Regions from separate parts of the Homo sapiens genome. Here all the other regions are reported to be linked to region 1. Evidence: microRNA targets listed by miRTarBase, many of them from high-throughput screens and not tested one by one. Region 1 holds a microRNA gene; each other region holds the end of a gene's coding sequence.

Evidence for each region. The annotated mature microRNA hsa-miR-1200 reads CUCCUGAGCCAUUCUGAGCCUC and lies in region 1 at 1,313-1,334, opposite strand. An mRNA with a match to its seed (bases 2 to 7 or 8) in the 3' UTR can be bound and repressed. Matches are read on the target gene's strand: a 7mer-m8 pairs with bases 2 to 8, a 7mer-A1 pairs with bases 2 to 7 and ends in A, and an 8mer does both.
Region 2: the mRNA of VAMP4 is a reported target of hsa-miR-1200. Seed matches in the 3' UTR shown: 7mer-A1 at 875-881, 7mer-A1 at 1,520-1,526 and 7mer-A1 at 2,328-2,334.
Region 3: the mRNA of OTOG is a reported target of hsa-miR-1200. The part of its 3' UTR that is shown has no 7-base or 8-base seed match.
Region 4: the mRNA of PIGO is a reported target of hsa-miR-1200. The part of its 3' UTR that is shown has no 7-base or 8-base seed match.

The regions. Positions count from the first base shown.
Region 1 is chr7:36,918,091-36,922,239 of GRCh38, forward strand. MIR1200 (microRNA 1200) reads right to left here and starts at 1,342; the gene lies at 1,267-1,342. All of the region lies in intron 16 of ELMO1 (engulfment and cell motility 1), which reads right to left.
Region 2 is chr1:171,701,004-171,705,003 of GRCh38, reverse strand. VAMP4 (vesicle associated membrane protein 4) reads left to right here. Exons shown (of 8, transcript NM_003762.5): 8 at 470-4,000. The coding sequence ends at 498. Among named protein-coding and RNA genes, the nearest start is that of VAMP4, 39 kb to the left of the region's middle.
Region 3 is chr11:17,645,716-17,649,715 of GRCh38, forward strand. OTOG (otogelin) reads left to right here. Exons shown (of 56, transcript NM_001292063.2): 56 at 29-329. The coding sequence ends at 229. Among named protein-coding and RNA genes, the nearest start is that of LINC02729, 49 kb to the right of the region's middle. RefSeq lists enhancers at 1-34, 35-535.
Region 4 is chr9:35,085,800-35,089,799 of GRCh38, forward strand. It overlaps PIGO (phosphatidylinositol glycan anchor biosynthesis class O), which reads right to left. Exons shown (of 11, transcript NM_032634.4): 10 at 3,581-3,651; 11 at 2,889-3,422. The coding sequence ends at 3,293. Among named protein-coding and RNA genes, the nearest start is that of FANCG, 7.9 kb to the left of the region's middle.

The sequences.
Region 1 (4,149 bases):
AGGAGGGAAGGAAATGGGTGTAGGGAATGGGGGGTGAAGAGGAACAATAACAAAATAAGAGGAGGGTCTTGCATGGCCTTAGGGTGACAATAAGCTATGAACTGAGCAGTATGCATAACTCAACTCCATATCTGAGGGCCAATTAATTCTTTAAACATTGTTGAGTTCTTGTACAGATTAAACCAGATCTATAAGTCAAACTTCTGGCAATGTAGGAGGTGCTCAACACCTATTTGCTCCCCCTGTGGCTCTCAGAAAATGTAAAAGGGATGGGGTTTTCTTTTGCTTCTCTAATAATTTTATAAGTGAAAATATGAGTCTCAAGAGAATGAGGTAAGAAGAGTAGCACTCAGATATGAGTGTAGAAGGCTAGTTCTCCACCCTGGGTGCATATCACAGTCACCCAGGGGATTCACAGAAAATTCAGATAATCAGGCCCAATCCACTCGTTCCCTCCCCCAGTGACAATGTGTATCATCATCTCTAAGGGCAGGAGGAATAGGGGCCAGGGCCAGGGTCCACAGTACATTTTGAAAAGCATTAGCCTTGTGCTGGAGGGTCTGTCTGTCCGCTGTGCTCTCAGCCACTCATGTTCTTTGGATTGTTGCTTTTGAAACTTTCAAGGGCTTTTGCTAAATAAAGCGTCACCAAACTGCTCAAAAAGAAATACATTTCAAAATATATGATTAGTGTATACAGTATGGTACCCCATCTGCTCTTCCAAAATACTTGAGTTTTAGAAAATAATGTGTAGACAGGTCTATAAATTGCTACCTCCCACAAAACAAAGTAGACTCACTTTAAGGGGTAAGGAAAAATATTTTTTTTCTTTTGGTTTACCCATAGCAAGAGAGTTAATCTATAAGAGCAAGCAAGCATGCCTTCATTCATTCATTCATTCATTCAGTCAGTCAGTCAGTCAGTTGGCACTTGGGCTAAAATAAAGTACTTTATTCTAGGGATGGTTCAGCTAACTTATAGGAATTTAGCATCCATAATAAATAGAACTTGCACAAACGTAGCAACTTTTCTTCTCACAGCTCAATATTCAAGCAAGTAAATATGCACCTTGGGTTGCAAGATCCTAGAAGGCAGAGAATGTAACTCTGTTGAATGTCACTATGTGCTCCATGTTATCCAGCATTTGGTTAATAGTGACTAGGATAATCGTTCATGTCTATTACATTTCCCACAGCATATAGCATCGTGTGAGTCTCAGCCTTTTCTAACACTGCTCAGATGCTGGCTGAAGACTTTGGGACTTCAGGCTATCCCTGACAAATTCCTGAACCAATCTCTCTGGCAAGTGATTGAGGCTCAGAATGGCTCAGGAGAAGTAGCATAGTAAACTAGGAAGAATGTGGGCTTTGGGGTCACAGAACTCTGGATTTGAAACCTGGTTCTCTCACTTATGGGCTAAGTCTCTTCATCTGTAAAATGGGATAATGGCATCAACCTTGCTGGGTTGCTATGATAATTAGATAATGTACACTCAGTGCCTAGAACAGAGTAGGCCTGGCAACTGTGGAAGGGAGGCTGCTGCCAATCAAAGTGTGTTGCTGCACACTCAGTATCAAGTATCCTAAAAGAAGCTCTGATTCCCCATTGCTCATGAAACTCTAGTTTGTATTTCCAAGCTCTGTGATCGATGCTGGGCTCACGGGGAAGAGTTTCTGCAATCCAAAGCTCCCATCAGAATGGGAGCCCTTCCTGAACCCTATTGCTAATGTGACTGCAAATAAAACAACCTGTCTAATCATTTCCATCTCCCTTCCTCTGATTCATTTAAGGAACGAATCAATGCCTTAATTATGTGAACCATTCAGAACTATAATGTGTCACGACTGGGAACGCCCTATGAGATGCCAAAAGCCCCACCCCTTTTGACATCAACAGTGGCCTGGATCAGGGATGCTTTGGTTCTTTCCTTTGGGCACTCTACTCTGGAATGATGTCCAATCACTTTCTTCTGCAAGGGCCAACCTCACACTTTATCCCTTCAGCCTGGCCACTAAGACCCAGCTCTTGCCTCTTCTACTCTGGCTAATATGCCCCTTGGCCAGGCCACCACACAGTCAACTACAGGGCTTATGAACTACCTGAAAAATATTTGCTGAATAGAAGTCAATGAGTATGTGAAAATGAATGAATGAGTGAATGAAATAAGTTGCTTCTCATCTCTGAATGAGATTTGGATTAATTGTTTCATTGGACTGTTGCCCCATGCAAGCAACTATCATCTGGCAGTGCCTCTGGAGGAAGAGGCTGACCTCATATAGCTCTAAATATGAAGTCCAAACATATAGTTTATGTTTCCTAATTCAGCTGATTTGTGGATATTAAAAACAACTGCCACAATGTCCAAAACTAGATGGTTCTTTAAAGTTAATCACAACATGGTTTTTGGTTTATATTCTAAAACATAATCTCTCACCCAATACATTAATTTACATATCCACATAATGAAATTCATGCATATATATGTGCACATATTTTAATGAATCTAAATAGATCACTATAGTTTTATGCATGAAAGGCTTTTAAAAAAATCTGGCATAAAACATAGCCATATTAAATCCCTCTCCAACATGGTAATTTAAGAACAGAATTTTCCATGTTGTTTTCTACTGCTGATTTCATTTTCTACTGTTAGACTGACCACCTTGTGTCTCCTGAAATGCCGTCTTGCTTGAAAAGTCCTTCTTAACTCTCCCACAAGTCACTCTCTTCTCTATGAACCCCAAATCCTTTTTATAGGTCTCCATGAGCAGTGTCAAGGTCTTCATCTATGGTCTGAATGTTTGTGTCTCCCCACCAAATTCATATGCTGAAATATAGTCCCCAGTGCAATAAAATATTAAGAGGTGGAGCCTTTGAAGGGAGAGGATTAGGTCATGAAGATTCTGCTGTAATGAATAGGGTTACTGAAGTTATAAAAGAGGTCCAAGGGAGCTTATTAGTCCCTTCCACCATGTGAGGACGCAAGAAGGCATCATCTATGGAGCAGGAAGTGAGCCTTTGCCAGGCACCACATTTGCTGGTGCCTTGATTTTGGACTTCCCAGCCTCCAGAACTGTGAGCAACAAATTTTTGTTATTTACAAATTACCCCGTCTAAGGTACGCTGTGACAGTAGCCTGAATGGACCAACACAATGTCTTTGAGAAGCAGTGTGGCCCTGTGATCAAGAGCGGGCAGGCCCACTGGACCAAATCTTCTGCCTTTGGAACCTGGCTCTGCCACTTACTAGCTAGCTGATACAGGCAAGTTATTAAACCTCTCTTGGCCTTAGTTGCTTCAACTGTAAGATGAGGACAAAAACAGTATCTAAAGTCTTGTGAAAATTATGACACCCATGAGCAGACATTTATGTCCTGGCACCAGAAACACAGCAGCAAACACAATGACAACTCTTATTATGTTGATGTTATTATTATTGCTATTATTATGACTACTACTCCTTTCTCACCTAGTTTGTGATTTCCTTGACAGGTGGAAGAGGTTCTCTTTCTTGCACCTGGCTCAAGAGTCAAGTAAAATTGTGGTTATACTTGTAGGCATTCAATAACTATAATGCATTCTCTAGAACTCCTCGTTTTCCGCACAGAAAAGCTCCCAAAATGCTCTTCAGTGAAGAAAGTGCTAGGATAGGATTCCTTGCACAAACCTCTCAATTATGGCAGTCTTTTATTTTTCAAGGCTGTATATCTCCTGTGAAAGTTCTCTGAGGAAGGATCTCACCTGGGGCATTTGCTGGGCTTTAGAGATTGGACAGGGCCCAGGTAAAGTCAAATAATACCTAAGAGTGGTAAGACCCCGCTGCGTATGCCTGTGTGGCATTGTCAGATCTCTTTTATTTTCTTGTGGAGTTTTCCCTATTCCCCATCAAACTCTTGAAATTCTAAATATTTGCTCCTTGCTAATTTTGTTTTTTTCTAGTCCCTTATGGAAATGAGGCAAATTTGGGGGAAACAAAGTATGGTATCTGTTTGCAGTAAACCAGTTTAAAGTTCTAATAAAATCAATAGGTGGTCAGGTGTCTAGTTGTGCAACTGAAGTAATTTAACATAAAGGAGAGGAAGCGGATTGAATGACGCTATTTTTGAAAGCAAACCCACAGATTCATTAGCTCTTTTACTAAGACTATATT
Region 2 (4,000 bases), not on the chromosome of region 1:
GAGCAATTGGAAAATGTGAAATATTAATAACAAAAAGAAGAAAAATTCAACTATAATCTTACAATTAGTAGAGATAGCTACTAATATAACTATTATATATACTTCTCTTTTCCTATTAATATACAAGCATGTTTTTTAAAAAACTAAGACTATATTATATGTACTTTCTAATAAATATATTGTGACTATTATCCCAGGTTATCAAAATTTTTAGTAATATTTTAACAGCAGATACAAGCTATGGCTATGCCATTATTTATTTAAGATGCCAATGTTAGACATTTAGGTTGTTTTATGATATTTTTTGCTTCTCCTTTCCCATTGATTATTTATTACCTCAGATAAAAGTTCAGTCAATCCTCATTACCCATTTCTAAAAGTAGACACAACTACATTTAGGAATATTGCTTCAAACATAGCATATATATCTGATGTTGATATATTGCTTTTTTCATGTTTTCTCTTACAGTTCTTATAGTCATGAAATACCGTACTTGATTTGATGACAGAGATCTTCATTAAACAAGATCTGGGACAGTAATAAAAGATTGCTGCATAATTTAAATGAAACCTATGTGTATATAACTTTCAAAACTTCTTTTTCAAGAAACTAAGAGGCAAGTATCACTTCAAATTGGAACGTTGAGAATGTCCAATTATCTTCTCCCTTTCTAACAAAATGTTCTTTTAATAATTATGTTTAAGGCAAAGAGAACTAGCCTCTATTTTTCCATATTTCAAGGATCTAATTTGAAACTAGATACTTGCCAGTTCATTATTTGTGTATATAAACACTGATTATAATATTTCATATTAATATTTTAATGGCATAAGGACTTGCATTATTGCATTAGGGAGCGGGTCATGCTGGGGGTCAGGAAGCCTGTGTAGAGTACCAAATTATATGCTGAAAGAGATGCATAACCATTCTGTCAATATTTGCAGAAATATAGTTCCTTTCATATTACAGTTGTTTTGCAAGCAATTTCCACATTTATAGGTGTAACAAAAGCTAAATGTTGTAAATGTTGTTGCCCTCAGGTATAACTAAAAACATTCCAGTAAATATATTTTTGACTGTGTAAGAGAATGTGTAGTAATTTTTTTGGCATTGGATTATGGAAATGGAAATTTTTAAACAGTGTGAAAAAACATGGTATGGCATCATAAAACTGGAGATAATAAAGTTATTGAAGAGTGTCATTGGAGTATTTGAAAATGACCAATATATAGCTGCCAGTCATGGTCCAGTCTGTTTTCTGTTAAACTCCAATAAAGAGAGACCAGTCAGTCCTAATGTGAGTAAATGAAATTTACAGGTAACTTACTTACTCCTTAATTTTATTTTAGTTAATAGCCTCTAACTTCCAACTATCTCATTTACCAAAAGTACAAAAAGTAGCAAAACCATCTATTAATACTTTGAATTTTATATCTTTGCATTTCCTGTTCATCCTTGAGGAGATGTATGTTGCACAATCAAATTTTGCATCAGCCAACAGTAATGAGTAGTAGAAAGTCAGGAACCTATGTGTATATATATATATATATATATATATATATATATATATATATATACACACAAACACACACACACACACACACACACACGCACACATATGATAATCAGTCAGTCGGTAACCAAATGCTAGAGAGTGACCATTAACCTAAGCCTGTTTTTATAATGAAAAAATGTGTTAACTTTAAAATATGCCAACCTCCTTGTGTCTTTTAAACAAGTCAGAGTGAAAATACATTGTCCCCTAAGGTGTGGGGAGAGGAAGCTTTATAATAAAATTAGTGATTCTGCAGAAACTTGTGCACTGGATATCTTGACAATATGAATATAAAACTCCCTAAATTAAAAATAGGGTTAATAGAAATTATCAGTATTTAAATAGGGAAAAATGATTTTATGTTTATTTTATTTAGGTTTTATTTCTTTGGTCATCTTAATGCAAAATGAATAAAGCATAGAATCTGGGTTTGGTGTTTTTTTGTCTGTTTTTAAAATTCTACAGGATTATTACTAGGAGGCAAAAAATGCTGTTTAGAATGGAAAAAATTTGAAGAGAGAAAGCAGACTGAGACACTCAAGACACCTGCAAGTTATCTAAGAAGATCTAAATAGAATTACTAAATTTTATAGTTTGCTTAGAGCATTTAGAAGGAGATAAAGGTCTTACATACTATAGTGTATATTGTCTTTGGTCTCTATGCTCTTTGTAAATGTCAATTAATATAAACAGCATCTGAACAGCTAATAAATCTTTTAAGTTAAGATACCCAGAAAAATGAGCATTTTTAGAATTTCAGTAGCTAATAATTCAGGAATGGAAATATTTTAACTGAATGGACAGAATCAGTCCTAACATTTGTATGTATGTCCTTTATTTGAATTGGAACTAGGCTCATAAGTGGTTAATTTTCCATTAGTTGATGTAGAAATCTGGTTTCTCCATAATATCTACAAGTGAAGATGAAGATTACTTCTCAAAAAGTATCCATATTTCCAGTGTTCCTTTTAATAAAATATGCCACTTTTAAATAAATAATTACAAAATGTAAAATTATAAAATTTTTAAATTTAAATAATAAGTAACAGTAAAATTTTTTGACAATATATATGTCACTGTCTTTGTAATTTAAACATATTGCTGCCTGGGATATGGGTAACAGAATTATCACTCATGGAACTTTGTAGTAGTGATGGCTTGGTTTGTAATTCATCATTTCATCTTTCTTGGTCTTGATTAATCCTGAAATCCTTAAAATGGCTGGCATGGTTATGACTTTATTGTGGTAACCTTGGAGATATAAGCCCTCTTACGATCAAAAACAGAAGAAAAAAATATATTGTTCAAACTGATGCCAGGCCTACCTTTATTCCCTCCCTTAATTACTTTTTTTCTCATTCAGCTCAGATCATCCTGCACTTGAAAAATGAAGTTTTACCACCATCAAAACTATCATTATTTAACAACAAGTGAAGATCAACAGAAAAATTCAAGTAGCTTTGCAAATACTAGTTGATACTCAGTGAAATCACGTCACTATTTTGATGCCTGAATCCATACCTTTGTGATTTATGTTTAATTACAGAAGCCTATTGCCTTGCAGCAATTTTGTTGTTATAATACTGATTAATTGGTTACTCCTTCTTATTATAACTCAGTAATACCTGTGGTCATTTGGTTCCTCTATCCTGACAAAGTTCACTGGAAATTGCCCTCAGATTTTATAAACTGGGGGATTTCTTAATTAGATAAAAGTTCATTACTGAAGATGGAATATTATATAAGATGGAGGAAGGGTAATTAATAGACATGAGATATAGAAATACTTTGTTAGCCCTGCTATAGATTGCCTATTGTAGTCTTTCTGTGCATTTCAATAGTCTGTATTAGGAAATTATAACTTCAGCACTTTTGATAGCAAAAATTGGCATCTTTCAATTCTGTATAGTATGTGACTATCCTGTAAATGATAATATGTGTACAGACTGAGAAGGCAGGAATATAAAGTAATTGAAATCTCTCATTGCCGGTATACTCTAAAACATGCTTGATGCCTTGTCAGCATCATTGCACACATTGACTCTGTATTTACATCTGTATATACACTATGATTAGAAAATATGCAAGAAATTGTTTTTCCATGTTAAGAACAAATGCCATTAGAAGATGTCCCCTTAATTGTATTGTCAGAGTATTACTATGTCAAGGATGACTGTTCTGTTAACCTAATTTTGTGTTTTCACATGGAAATGTGATTGGACTCCATTTTTCTGTGAGTTGAGAGTAAGAGCATAAGTCAGTTTGAAAGCATTTACAAGTTTGTTTTAGAATGTAGTAAGGGCTGAAAGGTGCTCTACTTCTTAACTTGTTTTTTCCATGTTGTAGACAAATGAAATTTGTCTAAATGCTTTTGTCTAAAAATGCATTTGTCTAAATGCTTTAGATTGATGTAGGGTTTAGATCCTCTTTAATACTTTGAGATA
Region 3 (4,000 bases), not on the chromosome of region 1:
GACTGCCTCACTGGCCTGCCCGTTCCAGGTGAACCTAGTGTCCTGCGATGGGAGGTGCCCATCCGCCAGCATCTACAACTACAACATCAACACCTATGCCCGATTCTGCAAGTGCTGCCGTGAGGTGGGCCTGCAGCGGCGCTCTGTGCAGCTCTTCTGTGCCACCAATGCCACCTGGGTGCCCTATACAGTGCAGGAGCCCACCGACTGTGCCTGCCAGTGGTCCTGAGGCCTGGGGGCCCGGGCTAGCTGGACCACCTCTGCCAGCCCCACTTTCTGTTTCCAGCTGGCCCAATGTGAATGGGGGTATTAAAGGTGGTAGAAATCTGGCACGTGTTGAGCATGGAATGGTGGGAAGAGGTCACAGGAGTAACCAGAAAGGGTCACCCCTGCCCATCCTGGCTCCCTTTCTGGGCTCCCCATTTTCCGCACATGGGAAAGTGCCACAGTTGAGGGCTCAGGGAGCTCACCTCTGTCCCTGGTTTGAGATGGAAAATGGGCTTTAGGTCCAGGGGCAGCAGCCTCTGAACCTCTGTGACCCTGGCCACAGCTCTTGGTGGAGGGGGTGAGAGCTGTGGGAAGATGGGAAGGTGCATGGTGCTTACATGGGAACCACAGCTGGACCCAAGACCAAGCACAGGGGCAGGATGCAGTGGCCCATTCTCTTGGCCTTTTTGACTACACAAGAAACCAGACACAGTAAAAGGAAAGAGGGCTATACCTGCAACACTCAGGCCTGCAGATGGCTGCCCAGAAGGAGTTCCCAAAGACAAAGATGGTGGATTCTAGGGCCCAGGTTGTCTCACCAAGATCTGTGAAATCAGAGTGAGCTCAGTGACCTTCGCATCTCCTGTAGTCCAAAGAAAGGTGCCTGGTGTCCTGGTATTGATATGGTAATTCAGGAAAGGATTTGGAAGACCTAAGCCTGTACCCTTACCCCAAGGCAACCTTCCCAGCAGGCAGGCCGGCCTTGTGAGGCGGTGCTGGGGGAGTGAAACCCTCAGTGAGGGCCCAGCACTACTTATCTAGGATGCTGGTTGACAGCCCATGCCTTCAAGGCCCTAGGTTGCTGAGGGGGTACCTTCAGCCTGCAAATGCAGCTCCAGGCTTTGCAGTGTGCCTTTTCTCCAAGGCCATGACAGAGTCGGGCTCAGAGGAGCCTGATTATGGGTTGTGTGGCTCAGCCAGTGCCAGTCTCTGTGCTCCATGGGACTGTTTAGCAAGAGAGTGTCTGTTGGTGTCAGTGGAAAACACAGCCCCAGCCTCCCTGAGCACTTGTGAGATCCTTGTCACTGAACCAGAGCGTCCCCTAAAGCCAGGGCCAGCGTCCCCTTCCACACCCCACTCTGCAAGTCTCCCACCCCCTGTGCCACTTTGTGCCACGTGGAACCGAAGGGCATGAACATAAGGTTGTGCAGGCCCCAGCACTGCCCTGTGTGTCTGAAGATGTGGCTGGATGCCCCTTGAGGTGAGGAGGCTGTGCCAAGATGGACCCTGCTGTTTCCAAGCCTCTTTGTGCCCATGTTTGTGTTCTGTTTATTCATCAATAAACCACAGGATGACTTCAGGCCTCTGAGCATCTCTGAGGGAGCCAGGTTTACTTCGAACTTGAAGGAGTGTCCACTGTGAAGAGAAGACTCTATTTTGTGGCCCTGAACATCAGCACTGCTTCTGCCCCATCCGTCCCAGCACTATGCCCCACTCACAGCAGAACCATTGGTGGGTGTCTGCTGGTTGGAATTGAATGGACTGGAGACTGGCTTCTAGAGGAAGGGGATGAGGAGAAGGAAGAGGACATTGGGAGCTGGGGAGCTGGCACCCAGGAGAGGGACTGAGGAGTGATCCTGGTTCTGTGGGCCCAGAGACAGACGCTTCTTACAGGAGATGTGGGTGGGGCAGACCCAGAGAGTAGGTTTCATATTGGCCTCTTAACATTTCTGTATTTCTTTCCTTGTTGTTCTCCCAATGAGCTCAGTATGTTTTTGCAGCCATGTCAGCTGTGGTAGGATTAAGGAGCACCCAGGGACAGGCTCTCAGTGACACTTCACCTGCGAAGGACTGTTGGTACACCTAAGGAGCAAATGGGAGGGTGCTTTCCTGGGTTGTCCCATGTGGGAAGGAGAAGGAGGGGGGCTAGGAAAGTACCCCTCAGTAATAGGGCAAACTCCTAGAGGAGTCAGTGCTTACAGTGCAAGAGCTTCACCCTGCCTAGAGAGGGTAGAACATCTTTTTTTGAACGAACACTTGGAAGGCTTGGCTTTTATTTCATAAGTAAGCTCTTCTTATGGTGCATCTGTCTGCTAACATGGACCCTGAGTCTTTTCCTAATGAAGCTTTATGGCTTTGTAAGCAGCACATTTCTAAATAATCAATGGCTCAAATAAGAAATCAGAAAGGAAATTGGACAACATTTTGATCTGGGTGATTTTGAAATTATGACACATTAACCTGTGAGATGCAGCTAATGCAGTACTTAGAGAAACATTTATAGTCTTAAATGCATACATCACACTTCTTAATTTCTCATTATTACAGCCAGAGATGGGGTGGGACAAGGCTTCCAAACTTCTCTATCAGGGATGATGATCCATGGCTTGTAGTCAGTTATCTCCTTAGCTATACACACTCCCTAAATCAATAGTTTTCAGAATTTTGAACTCTGATTTCAGCAGAACATGACTTTAAACAGAACATGGCTGTTAAAGTGAACTAGGTTCAAAATCCTGGTTCTATTATATGGCAAGATGTTTTGACTAAGACATAAGGAAGTTTTTATAGCCATTGCTGGCTATATAGTATCCCTGGCTGTTCATTCCTCACCTCATCACCCTTCCCATCTGTTTGTGTCCAGTTACGGGAAAGCAGCTTTTGAACAGGCCACTCCTCATCAGCTGTTGCATAGACAGAGGCAGAGGGCACCAGGTTAAGTCAGCCAGCCTTGGCCTAAATGTCTTTCTGCAGTCTCAATTCGGGAGGGTGGCTCCAGGCTTTCAGACACCTGTTCCCCACATCTGACCCATTGTTGGTGACACAGTTTCAGTAGCCTGGCCCTCCTTGGCTCCAGTTGGCAGCAGTTCTCCAGCCCTCCTGCTGTACTCCCACTGTGTCCTCTCAGATGGCCATAGCTCCTGGTGATCACACCCTACTGTGGGAGTCCCAGCATGCCTGGATGTTCCCCCCGGCCACCTCACCTCCACTCCCGCTCAGACAACCCCCCCGCCTACTCCTACTGGAAGCCAACTTCTCACTCTAAATTTTTGGTCAAAATTCCCAGTTCTATTTTCCTAGATCCCTCCTGAAGATACTGACTTTTTTTTCTTTCAGGGTAAGACAATTTAGTGAAAGATTAATGAGAGGAAAATCTCCAACCCTGTCTTGCAATGTAGGGAAGGCAGGAAACAGTGAAGACTTTGAACCTTAATTAGTGTTGTCCATTGCCCTCCAAAAAGCCAGTGCCAGCAGTGTTAATGCGAGTGTTCATATCAAATAGATACAATTTGTAGATGGTGATTTAAATGTAAAATACACATCTCCTTTAACTAAGTCATCCTATTTCTAGGTAGCTATGGAAGGCTGAATAGTGGTCCTCCAAAGATGTACAAGTCCTAATTTCTGGATCTTGCGAATATTTATATTACATTACATGGTAAAAGGGACTCTGCAGACGTGATTAAGGATCTTGAGATAAGAGGATTATCCTGGGTCATCCAGGTGGGCCCGGTGTAATCACAAGCGTCCTTATATAAGAGAGGCAGCCAGGTCAGAGTCAGAGAGAGGAGACGGGATGACAGAAGCGAGGTTGGAGTGATGTACTTTGAAGTTAGTGTAAGGGGCCACTGGTCAAGAAATCCAGGCAGCCTCTGGAAGCTGGAAAATCAAGGAACTGGATTCTCTCCTAGAGCCCCCAGAAGGAACACAGGCTGGCTGGCCCCTTGATTTTAGCTTAGTGAAGCTGATTTCATACTTCTGACCTCTACAACTGTAAGAGAATAAATGTGTG
Region 4 (4,000 bases), not on the chromosome of region 1:
AGAGAAGGAATGACTGCTTAAGGGTACAGGGTTTCTTTTTGGGGTAATGAAAACATTCTGGAATTGATAATGATGATAATTGTACAACGTTGTGAATGTACTAACGGCCACTAAATTATACACTTTAAAATGGTGAATTTTATATGAATTTTACTTCAATTTTAAAAAAGAAAAAGAATGAAGTACTGCTGTGTGCTGCTATATAGATGAAACCGGAAAACATTATACTAAGTGGAAGATGCCAGTCACAAAAGACCACATATTATTATGATCCCATTTCTGTGAAATATCCAAAATGGGCAAATATATAGAGAAACAGCAGATTAGTGCTAGCCAGGGGTTGGGGAGGATTGGAGGGTGATATCTAAACAGTAGATTTTCTTTTGGGGTTGGTGAAAATGTTCTAAAATTGATTCTGGTGATGGTTGTACAATTCTGTAAATACACAAAAACCATTAAATCTTACACCTTACATGGGTAAATTTTATGGTAAATTGCATTTCAATAAAGCTTTTTTAAAAAAGAATCAGGGCTGGGTGCAATGGCTCACACCTGCAATCCCAACACTTGAGGAGGTCGAGGCAGGAGGATGGCTTGAGGCCAGGAGTTCAAGACCAGCCTAGGCAAGACAGCAAGACCCCCACCTCTACAAAAAATTAAAGGAAAAAAAAAAAGAATCATTGAGTTAGTGTGGAATGGACTCTGATTTCAAGGAAAAGGGAGGGATAAGATAATTTTTCTTTTTAAAAGAGAGAGGATCTATGTTGCCCAGGCTGGAGTGCAGTGGCTATTCACAGGTGCATTCATTGTGCACTACAGCCTCTAACTCCTGGGCTCAAGTGATCCACCTCAGCCTCTACATAGCTGGGACCATGCCTGGCTAATTTTTTTATTTTTGTAGAGACGGAGTCTTGCTATCCTCAAGTGATCCTCCCACCTCTGCCTCCCAAGTAGCTGGGACTATAGGGACATGCCACAGTGCCTGGCTAGAAATAATTTTTAATAGCGTAAATCAATGTACTAATGTCTTTATCTAATAGAATCTTATAGATACACCAGGAGAAAGAATAGACAGTGGTTGGCAGATCAGCAAATTAGCCTTAGGCTCCAGGCAAGGAGGCTACTGCAAAAAGTGCAGGGTACCTGGCTGAGAAGTGGAGGAACTAGGGCCTAAAATCCTTCCATGGGTGCTAGGGATGGAGGAAAGGTTTTTGTTTTGGTTTTTTTCCCCTTTCTCAAAAAGACACCATTTGCTCACCGAACTATGCTTGGGAGTTGTGTCCACCAGACTTGGGGAGAAGCGTTTTTCTAATTCATCTTACAGGCCAGCTGGGGCCAACTTCACCCCCTTGCATTATTAAACCTCTTTCTACCATGGTTAACAACCTATCCCTTTTTTTTTTTTTTTTTTTTTGAGAGAGAGTCTGGCTCTGTCTCCCAGGCTGGAGTGCAGTAGCGTGATCTTGGCTCACTGTAACCTCTGCCTCCCAGGTTCAAGCGATTCTCCTGCCTCAGCCTCCTGAGTAGCCGGAATTACAGGTGCACACCACCACACCTGGCTAATTTTTGTATTTTTAGTAGAGATGGGGTTTTGCCATGTTGGCCAGGCTGGTCTCAAACTCCTGACCTCAGGTGATCCACCCGCCTTGGCTCCCCAAAGTGCTGAGATTACAGGCATGAGGCACCACACCCAGCTGAACCATACTTTTCATCATCTTACTATTTGGCATCTGTAACACTAGGGACCACTGGCCATTAATAATCTGAACTTAGCCAGGTGCTGTGGCTCACACCTGTAATCCTAGTGCTTTGAGAGGCCAAGGTGGAAGGATCGCTTGAGGCCAGGAGTTCACGAACAGCCTGGGCAATGTAGCAAGACTCTGTCTGTACAGAAATTTAAAAATTAGCCAGGCATGGTCCCAGATACTGAGGAGGCTGAGATGGATCACTTGAGCCCAGGAGTTTGAAACTACAGGGAGCTATGATTGCACCACTGCCCTCCAGCCTGGACAATAGAGCAAAAATATGTCTTTAAAATGATAGTAACAATAAAAATAATTTCAATTCTTCCCTTAGCTACCTACCACAGCAGTGAACGTTTATACTTCACAACCACTACTACTCAGCTTCTCTACTTTATGCCAGCTAAAAGTAGGTGCTATCCCATGGTTTTAACATCTGTTCTGTTTTTCAGTGGTATCAGCTCCTCTTGTTCTAGGTACTGTCAAACCTCAAATCCCAGTCCTGATGCTTCTCTCCAGGGCCTCTTCCCAACTCTTTTGATGGACATCTCTAGGAGGATTTCATGCCAGCATTTCAAACATGACAGGAGTGCTGGGGTGAACAGAGGGCACAAAACATACACATGAGAAAAGAACCAGTGGATTCACACAATTTTGGCTTCAAGTCAGGAATAATGAATGGGACAAGGTGGAATGCTACATAAGATGGGCATGTAGATCTGATAAAGAGTGGCACAGGTTGGGAAACAAGGGAGGCTTCCACAGAAGGGAAGGGCAAAGGGTGTTCTATAGTGAAAAGGCCCAGTGGAGCGGGGGCATAGCACTATTTGGGGCTTCAGACAGTTAAAGTCGGTGCTGCATGATGCCTGGGCTTGTCTTCTCAGTCTTCTCTCTTTATCAGACAAAGAACAGGAACTTAACAAAATGTGTTGCATGGCAAAGGAAAATAGCGGTGGGATAATAGGATTGATTTGGGAAGAGGTGGAGGCAGTGAATTCAGACAACTCCAACCACTTCATAAAGGTTCTCAGGTGCAGCCAGGCTTTCCTAAGATGACTGATCTCATCTGTGCCTGGTGGCAGGAGAGACTGATCCTCCTCACAACCCCTATAGAACAGTGGGGCTCCCCCACATCTCAGACACACATAATTATATTATCATTTTATTACACTTTTTTTTAAATAGTAGAGACGGGGTCTTGTTATGTTCCACAGGCTGGTCTTGAACTCCTGGGACCAAGCAATCCTCCCACCTCTGCCTCCCAAAGTGCTGGGATTATAGGTGCAAGTCACCACGCCCGGCCTATTTTATTCCACTTCGGAGACCGCCCCCCTTGTCCCTCAGATGCATCCAAATCAGGAGTTAGGGATCATACTCCACTGTGGTCCTGAATTATAGAATAATGAAGTCCTAGATGTCAGCGGCCCCTGGCTGCATGATAGTAAGAGTATGGCTGAGCCTGTCTTGCAGATCATCCAGTACCTGTACAGGCCAGGCTACACTGTTCTCAAGCACTCTCTGTAGCCAAGTGCCAGTAATCACAGACTAGGCTACCTCTGCTGGGCCAGAAATAGCTGCCTGAACCAGGAGCTCACAGCACCATCCACTCTCATCACCAAAGCTATGCCCAGGAGAAGTCCCACGCTGCTCACAATGAAGCCCACAGCCTCAAATATGAACCTGCAAAGAAAGGCGGAGAATCTCAGGCAACAGAGTAGGTCTACTGCCTTTTCCCTGTAGAGGCAAAACCTTGGCCATCCTGGATGTTTAGGATCTTCATACTTTGTTCCAAGTTTCTCCCTCCCCACCACCTCTACTTCTCAAGCAAATCTACTCACTTAGGGGCAAACACTTTCCAGACCATGAGATGCCTGCGAAGGATGGAGGCTGCCAAGGCACAGGCCAGAATCTAGAGGAGGAGAGGAGGGGCCACGTTACTTGTGAAGGAGAGGAGGAAGCGGAGCAAAAGGAGAGTTTCTATAGGCCCCTGTAAAAAATGGAAGCAGGAGAATAGTGCATGTCAGTGGAAAAAATATTGCATGTCCTGGGCTAGGAGTTAGGAGACCTACTTCCTGCCCTGCCCCAAGCACTGACTCACTATGTGACTTTGGGCAAGTCAGTATCCATCTGCAATGCTAACACTCAGGCTGTGCCCCCAGGATGGAGGAAGATATCAGTGCCACATCTGCCTCTGGAGGAAAGGAAGAGGATCCATGACCACAGTTTGGGAAGAAAATCCTGGCTATCACCTCAGTTTT